Regions from separate parts of the Homo sapiens genome. Here region 2 is linked to region 1. A link means that fine-mapping ties the variant in region 1 to the expression of a gene that starts in the linked region. Tissue or cell type: lung. Region 1 holds a variant in brackets; the other region holds the start of a gene. All regions are shown on one strand. Distances are between the middles of the regions. Region 1 overlaps DTX1 (deltex E3 ubiquitin ligase 1). Region 2 holds the start of DTX1 (deltex E3 ubiquitin ligase 1).

Region 1 (8,329 bases):
GGCCTCCCGGAAGGGGAGCCAGCCTTCACCCCTAGCTCTGCCTTCTTGGGGGCCCAGGCTGGCACAGGACCTGAGGAGTCCCTCAGGCCCTCCCCGAAATCTACTCTGACCAGAAGGCAGGCATGGGCCCCACTGCCATGCAAGCCTCTCTGCCTTTCCCAGTCCCAAATCAGATCCCATCTGTCCTCTGCTCTCACTCCTCCTGCAGCTCCCACTTTGCTCACAGTTAACACCTGGCCTCCTGATCTGGCCCCCATCTACCCTCTGAACCTCATTTCCTATGTGTTCACCCCTCTCCCACTCCACTCCAGCCACCCTGGTCTCTCTGCTCTTTCTCAAGCATGCCAGGCACACTCCCACCCCAGGGCCTTTGCACTTGCTGACCCTTTCCCAAGGTGCTCTTCCCAGATATCCTCATGGCACACTCCCTCACTTAGCACAGGTCTCTGCTCAAATGTCAGCTTATCTGAGACACCTTCCCGACCACTTTATTTAGTTATTTATTTATAGACAAGATCTTGCTCTGTTGTCCTGGCTAGAGTGCAGTGGCTTAACCATTGCTTACTGCAGTCTTGAACTCCTGGGCTCAAGCGATCTTCCCACCTCAGCCTCTTGAGTAGCTGGGACTACTGGCACACACCACCACACCCAGCTTAAACAACAACAACAACAACAACAACAAAACTTTTGAGGAGACAGGGCCTCGCTGTGTTGCCCAGGCTGGTCTGGACCTGACCTCCTGGGCTCAAGTAGTCCTCCCTCCTCGACCTCCCAAAGTGCTGGGTTTACAGGCATAAGCCACTGTGCCTGGCCGCAACCACTTTATTTTTAAAAAGCCCATCTTTGTCCTTACCTTACTGAATTCTTTTTTCATAGCACTAATCACGACCTGACATTATAGTCTTTTTTTAAAATTATACTTTAAGTTCTAGGGTACATGTGCACAACGTGCAGGTTTGTTAAATATGTATACATGTGCCATGCTGGTGTGCTGCGCCCATTAACTCATCATTTACATTAGATATATCTCCTAATGTTATCCCTCTTTAAGCATGACCAGGCCCTGTATGATCTGGTCCACGCCGCCTCTTCTGCCAGACAAAGTTAGAGCAGGAATGTCAAATATATGAGTGCATACCACTACTGTCCTCCTAGCACCCACAGCAGGCATTACTAATCAATTTCGGCATGCCTTACCGCTAAGCCAAGATGCAACTTCAGAATCCTCCTCAACACAGTGCTCCAGGAAGTCACTGCCCTGGAGCAGAGATGGCACATGAGATGAACTCTATTTGTCATTTATTTTGCAGATGATGGGACTGAAGCCCAGAGAAGGGAAATGACTTCACTAAGGTCACCCAGCTGGTTGGTGGTGCAGCTGGCACTGGGTCCTGGAGTTTCCGAGTCAGGGGCCAGGGCTGACCCTGCCAGGTTGGTCTGTGGAGCCATCTGGAGTTGAGCCAGCCTAGAGAGCCCTCTGTGCTCTACAGGTGGGCTGAAGTCTTTGACCTGGATCCTGGAGCTGGCTCAGGCCTGGGCAGGGTAGATCAGGGCTGTCTAACTGGATCCATTGGCCTGCTTTGGCCACCTCTCTCTGTCCCCTAGAGGGGTCCAGGATCCCGAAACACTGACAACTGACCCTCCCTTTAGGGCAGCCAAGTCCCCTCCCTCCTCCAAAGTCTGGTCTCCTTATCTCTCCCCTCCCACCCCCAGCAGGCCTAGACTTGTTACTTTCTCTGATGCTAGTTTCCAGGTCCCCCATTGGCCTTGGCCCCCTTCAGGATACCTCACACTTACCCAGCAGACCCCAAAGAGCCCCAGGAGCCTCAGGACTCAGTCATTTGGGGCCAAGTGGGTGAGGAGGGGGCAGAAGTGAGGATGTCACTTTATGGGGAGAAGGAAGTTGAACAGTGCTTTAGGGACCCCCCACCCTCTCCCTTTCTCCTTTCTAGGGGTGTGAGCCTGTCACCTTTCCCCACTTTCAGGGCTGTCTCTGCCTCATAGCTGCCTTCTCCCCCTCCTCCCCCCACAGTCCTGGGGAACACAGCCTGGGGCCAAGTCCCTGCCGCCACCCCCACTGCAGAGACTTGAAGGACATCGCTGCAAGCCCGGGGGACCAGGTGCCCATGGACTCCTCCTCAGCTGCTGTCTGGGGTCCTCACTTCCCCTTTCCTTACCCCAGCACCTCCGTCTGCCTAGACAAACCTCTGAGCTTCTCTGGGCTTCAGTGTCCCCTCTGTGAAATGGGACCCCTTACTTCTGTCTTCTAGACCCCTTACTTCCATGTTCTAGAGATTAAAGGATGTAAAAGTCCCCTCGGGAGACATTTTGAGGTGTGAGTGGTATTGGAGGCTCAGATTTATCTAGAGGTATGGGGGCTGCGGGGGTCACTCTTCAACCCTCCCGGTCCTCCAGCCTGCCCAGCTCTCTGCGGGGGAAGGAACGGGAGGAGATGGTTGGGGGCAGGGAGGACCGGTCAGGTAGGGGAGGGGAGGGCAGGACCGGCTGTTCCCACGGCCCGGGGCAGCCACGTGCAGACAGGAGTGTGTGTGGTTTGGTCTCCCAGGGAGCAGGGCAGGAAGTGCTTCAGGTGGGGGGCAGGGTGGGGGGAGTGTTTGGTTTGACCTTGCAGCAGCGGTGAGGCGGGGTGACAGTCACTGCACACCAGTGGCTAGCGGGGCAGAAAAGTGGGGGAGGGTGGGCAGCCAGGGGCCTGGTGGGGTCCTTGACTTCACAGTGTACCTGTCAGTACTTTAACATTTTCAAACCCCTGAAATGTAATACTTATGGAAGATCTGGAGAAAGAAAATGTGGATTTTTTAAAAATAAAAGCATAAAATCACTGCAAGAAATTTAAAGAAAAAAGGAAAAAAAAGGAAGGAAAACCCTAAAACACACCCACCACAACAAAGTCCCTTTGCCCTTGGCCTCCTGCTTCAGCCCCACTGCGGTCTATGCTCAGCATTCAGAGTGAACCTGTTAAAACAGTCCCACCCGTCTCTCCCAACACACAGCCCTGCTGGTTCCCTTCTCATGCAGAGCAAAAGCCAAAGTCCTAACCGCAACCTTCCAGACCCTGTGTGACCTGGCGCCTTTTCCTCTCTTACTTCTTTCCCACCGATTGCCCTGAGCCTCTCCAACCACACTGGCCTTCTCAGGCACCCCAGACCCACTCTGCCTCAGGGCCTTTGCACATGCTGTTCTGCTGTCTGGCATGTTGGAATGCTCTTCCCCCAGTTCTTTTGCTTTTTTTTTTTTTTCTTGATACAGGGTTTTGCTCTGCCACCCAGGCTGGAGTGCAGTGGCTCGATCTTGGCTCACTGCAACCTGGGCTCAAGGGATCCTCCCACCTCAGCCTCCTGTGTAGCTGGGACTACAGGCACGCACCACCGCACCCAGCTAATTTAAAAAAATTTTGTAAAGGTGGAGTCTCACTATGTTGTCCAGGCTGGTCTCAAATTCCTGGGCTCAAGTGATCCTCCCACCTTAGCCTCCCAAAGTGCTGGGATTACAGGTGTGAGCCACAGTGCCTGGACCATACCTTGCTTTTTAACCTCCTTCCACCTTTGCTCAAGAAGGTATTACCTTCTCCATGAGGCCTTTTCTTCTCATCACTCCCTACATCCTTTCTCTCCTATATTTTTCCTCTGTAGCAGTTACTACTTTCTACCATATTCTACAATTAATTTATTCTGTTTCGTGTTTGTCTCCCACTAGAATGTGAGCTCCAAGAGAGCAAGGACTGTCTGTTTAGTTCACTGCTGTGTCCCCAGGGCCCCAAACAGTGCCTGCCACACAGAAGTTATTCAATAAATATGAATGAATTAATTAAAAAACAGATGAACATATGCTATAAAGGAAAAAGAAACAGCAAACTACAGAAAAGATGGGAGACAAAGGGTTAATGCCCTTAATGCAGGAAGAACACTTGCAAATTAATAAGGAAGCAATAAACAGCTCCAGGGAAGGATAAGCCAAAGAAATACACAAGTAATTGGCAAAAGAAGGAACCACTCATGGCCAGTAAACAGGAAAAAGTTCTCAGGTTCAACTAAGAACCAAGGGTACGGAAACTTAAATGACGTCTCTTTAGGAATTATCAGCTTGGCAATGTTGTACAAATCTGATAGAGATGGGAGGGACAAGGGTGGATTTAAAATGGGAGCAGGCCTGGCTGGGCACTGTGGCTCACGCCTGTAATCCCAGCACTTTGGGAGGCTAAGGTGGGTGGATTGCTTGAGGTCAGGAGTTGGAGACCAACCTGGCAAACATGGTGAAACCCCACCTCTACAAAAAATATAAAAAATTAGCCGGGTTGGTGGCGTGCGCCTGTAGTCCCAGATACTCAGGAGGCTGAGGTACAAGTATTGCTTGAGCCTGGGAGGCGGAGGTTGCAGTGAGTGGAGATCTCGCCACTGCACTCCAGCCTGGACAACAAAGTGAGACTCCATCTAAAAAAAAAAAAAAAGGGTACGGGCCTGAGAAATCCAAGTGCTTTGACATCTGGCTTCATGATGGACTATGTGGGCCTGTGTTGCCAGTCCCATTTCAC[A/G]GATGCAAAAACTGAAGACCAGAGAGGAAGATGAGCTCAGGCAGGGTCACACAGGAATCAGGGTGGGGCTTCTGGGACCATGATCCAAAACAGTACAGGCTGGCTGGAGATGGGGCATCCCCAATATGCTGGTCAACTTGGGTTTTTGAATCTGAGTCCTAATTGTGTTACCTTGTGCAAATGTCTTAGTCTTCTGGAGCCTCAGTTTCCTCATTTGAAAAATGGGGATTATAGAACCTGCCACATTGAGTATCTGTGAGAATTAAGAGAGACATGCCTGTAAATGGCCAGACACAGTGGTTCATGCCAGTAATCCCAGTGCTTTGGGAGGCCAAGGCGAGAGGATCACTTGAGCCCAGGAATTTGAGACTAGCCTGGGCAACATAGTGAGACGCCCATCTCTACAAAAATAAAAAATTGGCCGGGCATGGTGGTGCATACCTTTAGTCTCAGCTACTTAGGAGGCTGAGGCAGGAGGATTGCTTGAGCCCAGGAGGTCGAGGTTGCAGTGAGCTATAATTGTGCCACTGCACTCCAGCCTGGGTGACGGAGTGAGACCCTGTCTCACACACACAAAAAAGCCATGAAATTGAGAGCCTGGGACATAGGGAGCGCTCGATAAATGGAAATAGGCCCGCAGCTATCACTGTCCTCCCACCCACCACGTGGGGTGGAAACTCTGAGTGTGGTTCCTCTGCTCCACAGCTGTGTTCCAACGCACTGGACACTGACCCCTCAGGGGACAGGGCGGATCTTCCCCACCCCCGCAGGTCCCCCAGGCCCAGGCTGCCAGCTGGCTCCCCGCCCTGTCTGTTACAGGGGCAAGTGGAAAAAACCCTGGCCAGGTGGATACTCTGCCCCCACTGGCTGGGTGACCCTAGATGAGCCAATCCCCCTCTCTGGGCCTCCTTCGCTGTTACCCGTCCAGGGCTGAGATGAGGTTGGAGGTGAGAATGACATTGAAGATCTCTGCAGAGTTCACACCTCCCTTGCAAGCTGATCCTTGCTGAGTCTGCCCATGTGAGAGGTGGTGGTTTTAGCTCTGTCTGACAGATGGGGAGACTGAGGCTAGAGAGGCCAAGCCTCAAGTGGGTCCAAGGTCACCCAACCTGTAAAGGGCTCTGGATCTGTTTGGGTCCAGGAGGGGAGAGAAGGAGGGTGGACAGAAGGAAGCCAGGGAAGGAAAGAGAGTGACTAAGAGGAAAAGGCAGAAGACAGAGAAAGAGAGAGAGAGACACAGAGCTACAAAGAGATATGGAAAGACTGAAAAAGACCAAGACACACAGAGATATTGTTTGGTGCAAAAGAAATGGTGGTTTTTGCCATTAAAATTATTGGCAAATTGGCCGGGCGCAGTGGCTCATGCCTGTAATCCCAGAATTTCGGGAGGCCGAGGTGGGTGGATCACTTGAGGTCAGGAGTTCGAGACCAGCCTGACCAACATGCCAAAACTCCGTCTCTACTAAAAATACAAAAAATAGCCGGTCATGGTGGCAGGTGTCTGTAATCTCCACTACTTGGGAGGCTGAGGCAGGAGAATCACTTGAACCTGGGAGGTGGAGGTTGCAGTGAGCCAAGATTGCACCACTGCACTCCAGCCTGGGTAACAGAGCAAGACGGTCTCAAAAAAAAAAGTATTGGTAAATTATAAAAGGAGAGACACACAGACACATTGTTATGGGCTGAACTGTGCCCCAAAGAAGTCATGTGTTGAAACCTTAAGCCTCAGGACCTCAGAATGTGACTGTATTTAGAGACGGGGTCTTTAAAGAGGTAATTAAGATAAAATGAGGTCACTAGGATGGGCCCTAATCCAATAGGACTGATGTCCTTCTAAGAAGAGAAGATTAAGACACAGACAGGTACAGAGGGAAGACCATATGAGGACACAGGTAAAAGATGCAATCTACAAGCCCAGGAGAGAGGCCTCAGAAGGAAACTACCCTGTGACACCGTGATCTCGGACTTCTAGTCTCAAGAATGTGAAAGAGAGAATACATTTCTGTGGTTTAAGCTGTTACTTTGTTACCACTGCCCCAGCAAACTAATACAGACTTAAAGTCATAGAGACAGGCCAGTCGCTGTGGCTCACGCCTATAATTCCCAGCACTTTTGGAGGCTGAGGCAGGCGGATGCTTGAGGCCAGGAGTTTGAGACCAGCCTGGGCAACATAGTGAGATCCTGTCCCTACAAAAAATTTTAAAAAATTAGCTGGGTGTGGTGGTGCGTGCCTGTAGTCCCACCTACTTGGGAGGCTGAATCAGGAGGATTTCTTGAGCCCAGAAGTTTCAGGCTGCCAGGAGCTGTGATTGCGCCACTGTACTCCAGCCTGGGCAATAAGAGCGAGGCTCTGTCTCTAAAAACAAAAAACAAAGACACAGAAACAAAGAGACCAGGGTTGGGAGGGCTGGGAGGTGGTTTGGGGACGAGAGTGACAGTGGGTAGACCTGTCTGCCTGGCTCCTCAAAGACCCCCCACCTCCATCCCTTTCCCCTCATAGGCTGCACTTGGGCCTCAGCTGTCTCAGCAATGGAAAGCTTTAGGCGGAAGAAGCCAGGGTCTGCCACCCCTATCTTCCTTCCTCCTACTCCCCTTCCCCAGCAACAGGCTCCACGGGTCTTGAGAGCCAGAGGGATTTTCCCCGGGGGGTTTCTTGGAGATGGAGCGTTGGGGACTTTGAGCCGGGCTTGTCTGGCTGGGGAGGATCAGTTAGAGGGGCTGGAGTGAGGCTGGGCAGCATCTGCGTGGGTGGGGAGGGATGAGGGAGTTCTTGAGAAGTTTCCCCCACCCCACATCTTCTGTTTTCCAGGCCAATGTCTGGGCTCAGGGAGGGTCAGAAACAGTCCCCAAGGGGAGGGGCAGGAGAAATGATGTCGGCTGTGGGGGAGCGGCATGTGGCTGGAGACAACAGAGCTCTGGCAGGTCAGAGGAGGACATGTTTAATGATCCGCACCCCCAAAGAGAAAACTTCCTTTTCACTACAGCCCTCTAGAGCTCAAGCACACTCTATAGCTCCCCACTGATGGCAGCACCAAGCCCAGGCTTCCCTGAGGCCACCCAACCTGGCCTTGTACCCCCATTTGGGGTAAAAAATCTCAGCCCCCACTGTTCCAGAAGGGAGCCTCTATCCCCCGGTGGTCTCCAGAACCTTCTGGATTCATTCCTACCTCTGCCCCTTTGCACCTGCAATGCCCTGCCTGGGGTGCCCTTCTCCTTCTTGCTGGCGCCTCACTCCAGCCCTCCCCACACCTCTAGCCCTTCCCTGAACACACCACGCCCTTCGAGCCCCCTTGAAGTTGTTCATGCTGTTCCCTCTGCATGGATCAGCTGTTCTCCACATCTGGCCACCTCCTCAGAGGGATTTTCCCTGAATTCCCACATCACCCTGTCCCACTACCTCCCCAGCACTTCTGTCTCACTCCAGAGATCGTCTTCATTTACTCTTTGCTTGCTGTAGGTCTGTCTCCCCATCTGTCTGTGTGCCCCGGGAGGACACAGGCCTTGTTTGTCTTGTTCAGCTCTGTGAATACACACCCACAGCACATATTTGGAGAATTAACACTAGGCCATGAAAGCTGAGTAATTTTCAGCCTCCTCTAGAACAGTAGCTTTCAAATCTCTCTCTTTTTTTAATTTTTTTGGAGACGGAGTCTCACTCTGTTACCCAGGCTGGAGTGCAGTGGCGTGATCTCGGCTCACTGCAACCTCCACCTCCCGGGTTCACGCAATCCTCCCAGTAGCTGGGATTACAGGTGTGTACCACCATGCTCAGCTAAT
Region 2 (8,329 bases), 28 kb after region 1:
GGTTGAGGCTCTTTTCCAGTGCGTTACCAATGAGGACAAGACGTCCTTTCTTGACATTGTTTTGCTCCTGGGTAAAGCGAGGGAAAAACCCTCACATATCTGGTGAGGAGGCCTCTTGCCCCACTCTCCAGCAGGTTCCCAGGCAGCTGAGGTCTCCTGCCAATCGCAATAGGTTTCCAGGCCTTCCTCCCTCTCTGGTTGGGGTGGGAGGGGGTTCCTGGCAGGCTCCCAGGAGTCCATTTAGGAATGAGTGTTTTTTTTCCCTTTTCCGGCAAACAGGGGGCAGGTGTGGAGTGAACAGCTCTGGAGAGAGGGAGAGGGGAAGTGACCAGAGCTGAACTTCTGGGGGATCCAGTGAGGCTGAACCATAAAAGGGGTACTATTGAGAGAATGGGGCCTGATGAAAGGGGAGTGTGCAAGTCTGGGGACTCGGGAACATAAGGGGATGCTGGGAATAGAAATGGGGGTCCCCCCAAAGATAAGAGGATCAAAGGTAAAGTTGCCAACTTGGCAGCCTTGTGGGGAGTCTGTCCCTGCTTCTAAGGACCCTGCCGCCCATACCCAACCCAGCTAGGTCCCGGAAGATCTCTACACCCAGCATTAGCTCTGAACCTGCAGAACACCAGACCTCCTAGCAAGGAGTGACACCTACCCACTTCTGCTCTCACAGCCCTGCCCTCTACCCCTAGGAGAAAACAGAATGGGGCGGGTAATGTGCAACACTTCCCCTTCTTCCATCAGGTCCTTGGTGCCTCTCTGGAAGAATGGGCACATGGAGCTAATGATGACTTCTACTCTCTGGATCAAATTCAAAGTTCTTTGCGTGGCTGTCCAGGCCTGTACATCCGGTCCTTGCTCAGCTGCCATCTTGCACCATCTTCCCCTTGGTGGGAGATGCATCCCAAACAGAACGGACTTAAATGTCCTCTGCCCCTTCCTACCCCAGGGCCTTTGCACTGGCTGTGCCCTCTGCCTGGGACACTGGCACCCTCACTCATTCTTCAGATCTCTGTTCAAACATCACTTTCTCAGGCTAGCCTTCCCTGAGTACCTCTGGGCCAGGTTTAGTTCATGCTCTCGGATCTGCCACTGATTGTCTCTGTGGTGATATGTTTGCTTGCTCCCTGACCACACCAGGACCTTCAGTGTAGGTCCTCCAGCACAAGACCTCGACTGATGACTTTGTCTTGCTCCCTGCTGTACTCCAGTGCTTAGCACAGAAATTGACACACAGCAGAGATCAATAAATAATCATATGATGGAATGCATGAACAATTGGCACCATCAGTGATGGTGGTCAATGCCTGGAGTTACGGAAACATAGATGTACTAATCTGTACCATCAATAAGCCATTTGTTATGAATTCGCCTGTGTTTCCAGACATGGTAAGCACTCTGTGGGTACCTAGCAATGTTCCGGACTATTGGAAAGTTCAATCATTGCAGAAACTTATATTGGACTGTGCTAGTTAGAAAGGCTGGCCTCCTTTCTAACTAGCATGGTGTAATAGAACTTTCTGCAACAATGCAATGTTCTGGATCTACACTGGCCCACAAGGTACCACAAGACACATGTGGCTATGAGCACTTGAAGTGTGGCTAGTGAGACTGAAGAACTGGATTTTACATTTTACTTAGTTTTAATTAATGTAAATTTAAGTAGCCACATGTGGTTGGTGGCTAACATATTGGTTGGCACAGCTCTAGAGGGAAAGCGAGCATCCTACCAGCCTGGGGTTATTACGTGTGGTTCTGTCATCCAGGGATTCATAGGAACTTCCCCAAACCCCATCAGCTGGTCCTTGGGGGGTCAAACATGCCAAGGATTTCTAGGCTGCTTCTGCACGGCAGGACCCCACCAGTCCCCACTGCCCATGGAGCTTGTCACAGATACCACCGGGCAATGACTCAGGGAGATCTCCCCAACGATGACAAATCTCCAGAACAAAAGAGAGTAGGCCTGAGAGTGGGACCTCATCGATTTTATCTCCATCATCAGCCATCACATTACCACCAACGCAACCATCAACATCACCATCATTACAACCACAACAGGATCACCAATACCACTAAGTAACAGCCACACACAGGGCTACCAGCCACACCACATGGCCACGAAGACTGCCACCAACATCATTCTCTCATTTTCTCCATCATCACCACCCCATCACACCACTTCCAGCACCACCACCAACACAACTATCAATGTCACCAACACCACTGAATCCCATGGTTAACGCTATCACTGACATCACCACCAACACTGCCACGTCACCATCATCCATCCCTCCATTGTCACCAAGACCCCACCACCATCAATACTATCACTGAGTCACCACCAACACAACCGCTAACACTGTCTCCTCCATCATTGCCACCTCACCCCACCATCAACACCACCAACGCCCCCCATCCCCAATTAATTACCACCAGCACGACTCCACCCCACAAACCAACACTTGGAGCCAGTATAGGATACCAGTTAAGAACTTTGGTTCTGGAACTCAACCGCCTGGGTTTAAATCCCAGCTCTGAGTTTAAATCACTCAGCTTCTGGGAGACTCGGTTTCTTCATCTATAAAATGGGACTCATAATAATACAACAATACACAGACTTACTGCCTGTGATTCTTGGGAAAAATCAAATGAGGAAGTGCATGTAAAGCCCTTATTCTACAATCCCATGCTACTGCTGTTCTAGGTTCTGTGCTCAGTGAGCACAATTTTATTTAATCCTCACTCAGCTGTGAGAGATATTGATCTACCCATTTTGCAGATGAGGAAACTGAGGCTCAGAGAGATGATGCAACTTGCTCAAGGCCCTACAGCTTGCTCAGAGGCTGCATTGGAATCCAAGTCTTAAACTGGACAAGGTTAGACTGCCCTGTTTTTCTGGAGGTGAGGCAGGGAGATGGGGAAGGGATTTGGCATCAGCAGATTTACTGGGATTTTCAGCATCCTACGCTGCAAGGTAGTGATGGCTCGGCGGGGCGGGTGGCATGGGGTGGGTGTCTGCTCACCTGTGTCCTGGCGAAACTGGTGCATGGACTGCAGGTCGATGATGTAGGGCACAAGCTGGGCGTCCACCTGCCCCAGGACCACGGAACCGCGAGCGTCCTCCTTCAGCACGTTCTCAATGTGGTGGCACACGGTGGCCGTGTAGGGCCGCCAGCGGCTGTGCTCATTCAGCCACTCCCACACCACCACCCGGGCCACGTTCTGCGGTGGGAAGCCCAGACCATTCACAGGCATCAGCCCACCGTGGCCTGGCCGTGACATGGCCGCCACTGCCTCAGGGGCCAGGTCCCCCACTATTGCAGGCCCAGCTCCTCCTGGGCCTGGCAGCAGGCGGCAACTTCCTCTCTCCCCAGGGGGACAGCAAGGACCGTCTGGCCTCCTTTCTAACTCTGGGTTCTCTCTGAGGCCTAGAGACCTCCGTTAAAGGAATGTGGGATGGCCATCCAGGCTGCAAAGACCCCTTCCCTGTAGAGCCTTCTCCGATAAAGGGTGCTGCCCTGGAAAGCAAGTGTCTCTCTTATGCCGGAGGAAACAGCTCTAAAGTCCTTGGCCCCCTCGGCTGGCTCAGGTAGGGAGTGAGGCAGCCGCCCCTGTTCGAGGTCCAGCCTCTTCCGTGTTGTCTCTTGGTCCCTCTTCCCCGCCAGACAGGGCCTGTCACCCAGGAGGCCTGGGCCACAGCCTGCTGCTCCTGCGGCTCTCAGCCAGCCCTTTGCACTCCCAACTGCGTCCCAGACCCTGCGCCCGGCTTCAGTGGGGCTTCTCGCCTCCCTCCGGTCTGGGCCCCCTTCTCCGACGGCTCCTGCCGAAGGGGGCGTCCCTGCCCCCTTGTTCCCTCTCCACGGTGTCCTGGAAGGCCTGGGTGGCCGCAGAACGCACGGGGGAGGGGTGCGGCGTGGACCCTCGGGCGGCGCGCCTGGACTGCGGCTCCGGAGCTGGGCTGGGGGACGAGGGGGACGAGGGGGGCGGGGGCCCGTGGGCACGCCCCACCCCACTCGTGCTCGCGACCTGCCAGGAGACAAGAGGGGAGAGGGCCCTTTAAGAGGAGAGCGCAGCACCCCCTCCCCCCTTCCCAGGAGAGCATTCGGCTGAGAACAATGGGGAACCGAAGGGGGACAGCAAGGGGGGCGTACGGGGTCGCCCCGCCCGCTTTCCCTTGGGGCAGGCCTGGAGGGAAGGCAGGGGCCGGGGGCGCGGTTTTCCGAGACTCTCCGCCTGGGGGGCGCCCTCCTTGGCTCCCGGAGCCTTCCCTTCCCCCGGGGCCCTCGCCCTGCCGGGGGGATGCCGGGTGCGCTGGGGTGCGCCGGGAAGCACGGGGATGCGCGGCGCTGCAGGCGCGGCCCAGGGCCCCTCGGGGGTCGCGTCGCGGAGGGGGCGAAGCCAGGAGCTGGATCGTCTCTGCCTCCCGCCCTGGGGGTAACAGCCCCGCTTCCCCAGCCCAGACGTCCCCGAGCCGCTCGCGGGCCCCCAGCGGGAGCCGGGGGTGGGGTCCCTAAGCACCCGCGTTCTCACCGCCTCTCTTCGTCTCCGGCTCCGGCTCCGGCTCGCGCTCCAGCACCGCCGCCTCCTGGGCTCCCCCCGGAGTGGGAGGGAGCCGCGGTCCCGCCTCCGCGCCCGTTCCCTCCCAGGCCCCTCGGCCGCCGCGCCGAGCTTTCCGCGCGTGGACAGACTGCCCGGCCGACGGACGGACGCAGGAGCCGGCTGGCGGCCGCCGGGATCTCGCGGGTGGGAGGAGGCCTCGGCCGTGCTCCGGGAGGGAGAGGGGAGGGGGCGGAGGAGGAGGAAGGGGAGGAGACAGATCTCGGCCCTGAGCGCCACCGGCGCTGACACGCGAGTCTCGGGGCGCCCCAAATCCTCGGCCAGGCCCTCCCGAGACCCCAAGGGGCCTTCTGACCCCAAGCAGAGCGTGAGGCAGGGAGTGGGATGTTTAGGAGTCACCGGCTTGAATCTTTGTCATCTTTATTTCCAGTCTCCCAGTCCAGGGCCTGGCACTGAATAGGTGCTCAATAAATGCTTGAATGAATGAATAAGATCCAGAGACTGTCTAAAGAAAGATCTTGAAGCATTCAGAGCTAGCCTCCTTTCCTCCTCTAACTATTCCTGGGGGTGGGAGGGTGCTGACAAGGCCTGATTCAGACTCAGTTGGAACCGTGGAATCTGAAGAGTACAGATGAGGAGACTGAAGCCAGAGAGAGTAAGAGCCAGGCCCAGGATCACAAAAGCTTAGAGCGATGCCCAGACACCAACCCCGATCTGAATCTCCTGCCAGTACCCAGTTCCCAGCCCTGAGCCCACTTCCCCCAAAGCACCCACCTGCTCCAGGTGAGAGGGGTGGGACCAGGGGAGGGGACCCTGGCCAGGAGGTGAGATCCTGGAGGAAGAGAAGGGCAGGCCCTCTGCCATGTCATTCACAGCCACCTGCAAACAACTGGTGCTCAATAAATGGTGGGTGAGCATTGGTTGGATGGAAGGGAAGGCTGGAAATGGCAGCGGCTCAAGTGTTAACGGGATGGCCAGTCCCCCTGTCCTCCAGCAAGCTGGATGCGGCTGAGACACACATTGGCTGGGAGGGGGGTGGACCACCTGGGGCCTGGGGGTGTTTAGATTGGGGAAGATGAAGGATGCGTCCGGGAACTCCAGCCTGGGTGGCTGACGGGGGTCAGTGGCCTGTTTGGGCGCCTGCCCAGAGCAGCCCACGCCTGCCTCCCCGGGGCAGATGGGGATACACTAGGCAGGGTCAGGGGCAGGCTGCTCAGGGGTGCTTTCCCAGAATCCAGCTCTGGCTCTCCGGCCAGCTGGAGGGACCTCCCCTCCCCAGGCCCCTGCTCTGACCTGCAGCCCAGTGTTGGATGGGCTTTTTCAGATTGGGTCAATGATTCTGCTTGCTTTCACCTGCTGTAGACTAAAGAGAGAGGCTTTGCATAGGGCAGGGCCAAGTCTGACGATACTCCCACAGGATCACTGAGTTCTGGGATTTTAGCCTAGGGTCCCTGGATGGCCTTCTGGGGTCCATGAAGTCCCCCTCTCCCATTACAGGCAAACTTGTGTGTCTAGGCATTGTGTGTCTTGTATGTCTGGGAAGAAGGGCTCTGGCTGTCAGCAGATTCTTCTCACAGGAGACTGTGACTGAACGGATTCAGAGCAGGTGCTCAACCAGCTTATGTTGTAGAAGGATCTGGGGATCCCACAGTGGAGAAGAGATTGGCTCAAGGTCGCATGGTGATTTAGCAGCAAATTGGAAAGAAGAACTCGTGTCTCTGGACTTCCTGTCGAATGCTATTTAAGGTCTGATTAAATGTCACCTCCTCCAGGAAGCCTTTCCTGAATTCACCCCATCTTCCTCTGTGTTCCTTTGCCCATACCTTGACATGACACCCTGTATCACAATTAGCCTCTTAAATGAAATCTGTCCCTGCTAGAGTGAGATAGCCATCATATTCATCTTGGTGTGGTGTGGCTGGTGCCCCATTACATAAGGGTGTCATTTACTGAGTGCCTATTATGTGCCAGGCACTTAAATAATACTTACTACTCTTCATAACTGCCCCACAAGGAAGGTAATGTTGTCCTCATTTTACACAAGGAAACAAAAAACCTCCTGAAGCTCAGAAAGGCTAAGTAGCTTACCCAAGTTCCCACAAGGAGTAAGTGGCAGAGCTAGGGTCTGAGTCCCAAATGCTTTTGCACCTCCCATAGCACCATGCTGCCTCTGTGTTTGTTGAGTGACTACTGGATGGCACCCAGCTGAGGATCTGGTGCAGAGTGGCCCTTAATGGCCCCTCTCAACTGGGTTTGGAACATCTGGGAATGCAACACTCTGCTCCCAGGGAACTTGGGGAGAAAAGAATTCCAAGGAGAGGGAAGGAATTTGGCCACCAAGGAGCCCACAATTCATGGGAGGGATGGCTCAGATACCAATGGGGAAGTCAATAGGACAAAAGCAAAAGCAATCAATCATGAACTGTTTTTTTTTTTTTGGTCCATTGAGGCATTTTATTCATATGAATTTATTACATCCCTAGAAAAACAATCCCAGGATTTTCCCTCCTGTGTATTTTTGTCTTGCTTCCTTGCAATCCCTGATACCAGCTGAGGTTGTCAGGACAATGAAACCAAAGGGGATAGGGGTACCATTTTTCTAGATCTTTGAGTTGCACATCAAACTGGGGCTTGTCACTGTACACTTGTTTAACCTGCCTGTGAGGTCCACAGTGATTTTTCTAGCTCTGTGATTATTGATGATTGCAAATTCACTGATGTAAACTAAACTTCATCATCACACTTAGAAACTAGATGATGATTTTGGAACACAACCTAAAACAACCTGGTATTTGCTTCTCTTCTCAGCATGTTGATGCTATTGAGAACACTGGCCAGGACGTTCACATGCACCATTATAGCAGCTCAGAAAGATGGCAGAAAGAGACCAACTCATTTTTTTTGTTCTGCCATCCACCATCCACTTATCCATCCACCCGTCTATCCATTCATCTATCCACCCATCCTCCATCCATCCATTCCACCCATCCATCCACCCACCCACCCACCCACCCACCCATCCATCCAGTCATTCACCCATCCACCCACTCATCCATCATCCATTCATCCATACACCCACCCACCCATCATCCATCCATCAATCCATCTATCCATTTATTCATCCATTCATCTATACATTCATGTATGAAATTTCCCACCTTCCTTGCTTCCCTTCCTCCATCTCTCCCTTCCTTCCTTCCTTCCTCTTTTTATTTTTATTTTTTTAAGATGGAATCTTGCTCTGTCACCAGGCTGGAGCACAGTGGCGCAATCTCAGCTCACTGAAACCTCTGACTCCCTGGTTCAAGTGATTCTCCTGCCTCAGCCTCCCAAGTAGCTGCAATTAGAGGCACGTGCCACCACGCCCAGCTAATTTTTATATTTTTAGTAGAGATGGGGTTTCACCATGTTGGCCAGGATGGTCTTGATCTCCTGACCTCATGATCCACCTGCCTTGGCCTCCCGAAGTGCTGGGATTACAGGCATGAGTCACCGCACCCGGCCCCTTCCTTCCTCTTATCCACTTATTCATCCATCCATCCATCCATCCATTCATCCAAAAAATACCAGATGCCCTCCTATGTGCCAGGCACTGGGCTACGTGCTGAGATAGAGAGCTGACACCAGCAGCATGGTCCCTGCCCTCCTGGGTCTCAGAGTCTAGTGAGGAAGTCGGACATGAATCAAGAATCACACAAAGTCTAATTCCAAACTTTTGCAAAGACTATGAGGGAAAAGTACAGGATATCGTGAGGACATCTAACAGGGGTCTTAT

What was found.
Region 2: it holds the start of DTX1, and the variant in region 1 is fine-mapped to the expression of DTX1 in lung (TOPMed, PIP 0.95).

Annotation. Positions count from the first base shown.
Region 1 is chr12:113,081,193-113,089,521 of GRCh38, reverse strand. All of the region lies in intron 3 of DTX1 (deltex E3 ubiquitin ligase 1), which reads right to left. Among named protein-coding and RNA genes, the nearest start is that of DTX1, 29 kb to the right of the region's middle. RefSeq lists a silencer at 2,609-2,698 and enhancers at 6,621-6,730, 6,761-6,820. The variant A/G (reference allele first, on the strand shown) is at 4,553.
Region 2 is chr12:113,053,143-113,061,471 of GRCh38, reverse strand. DTX1 (deltex E3 ubiquitin ligase 1) reads right to left here and starts at 4,742. Exons shown (of 10, transcript NM_004416.3): 1 at 4,528-4,742; 2 at 3,021-4,023. The coding sequence starts at 3,279. It also overlaps the pseudogene RPS15AP32. RefSeq lists an enhancer at 2,716-3,504.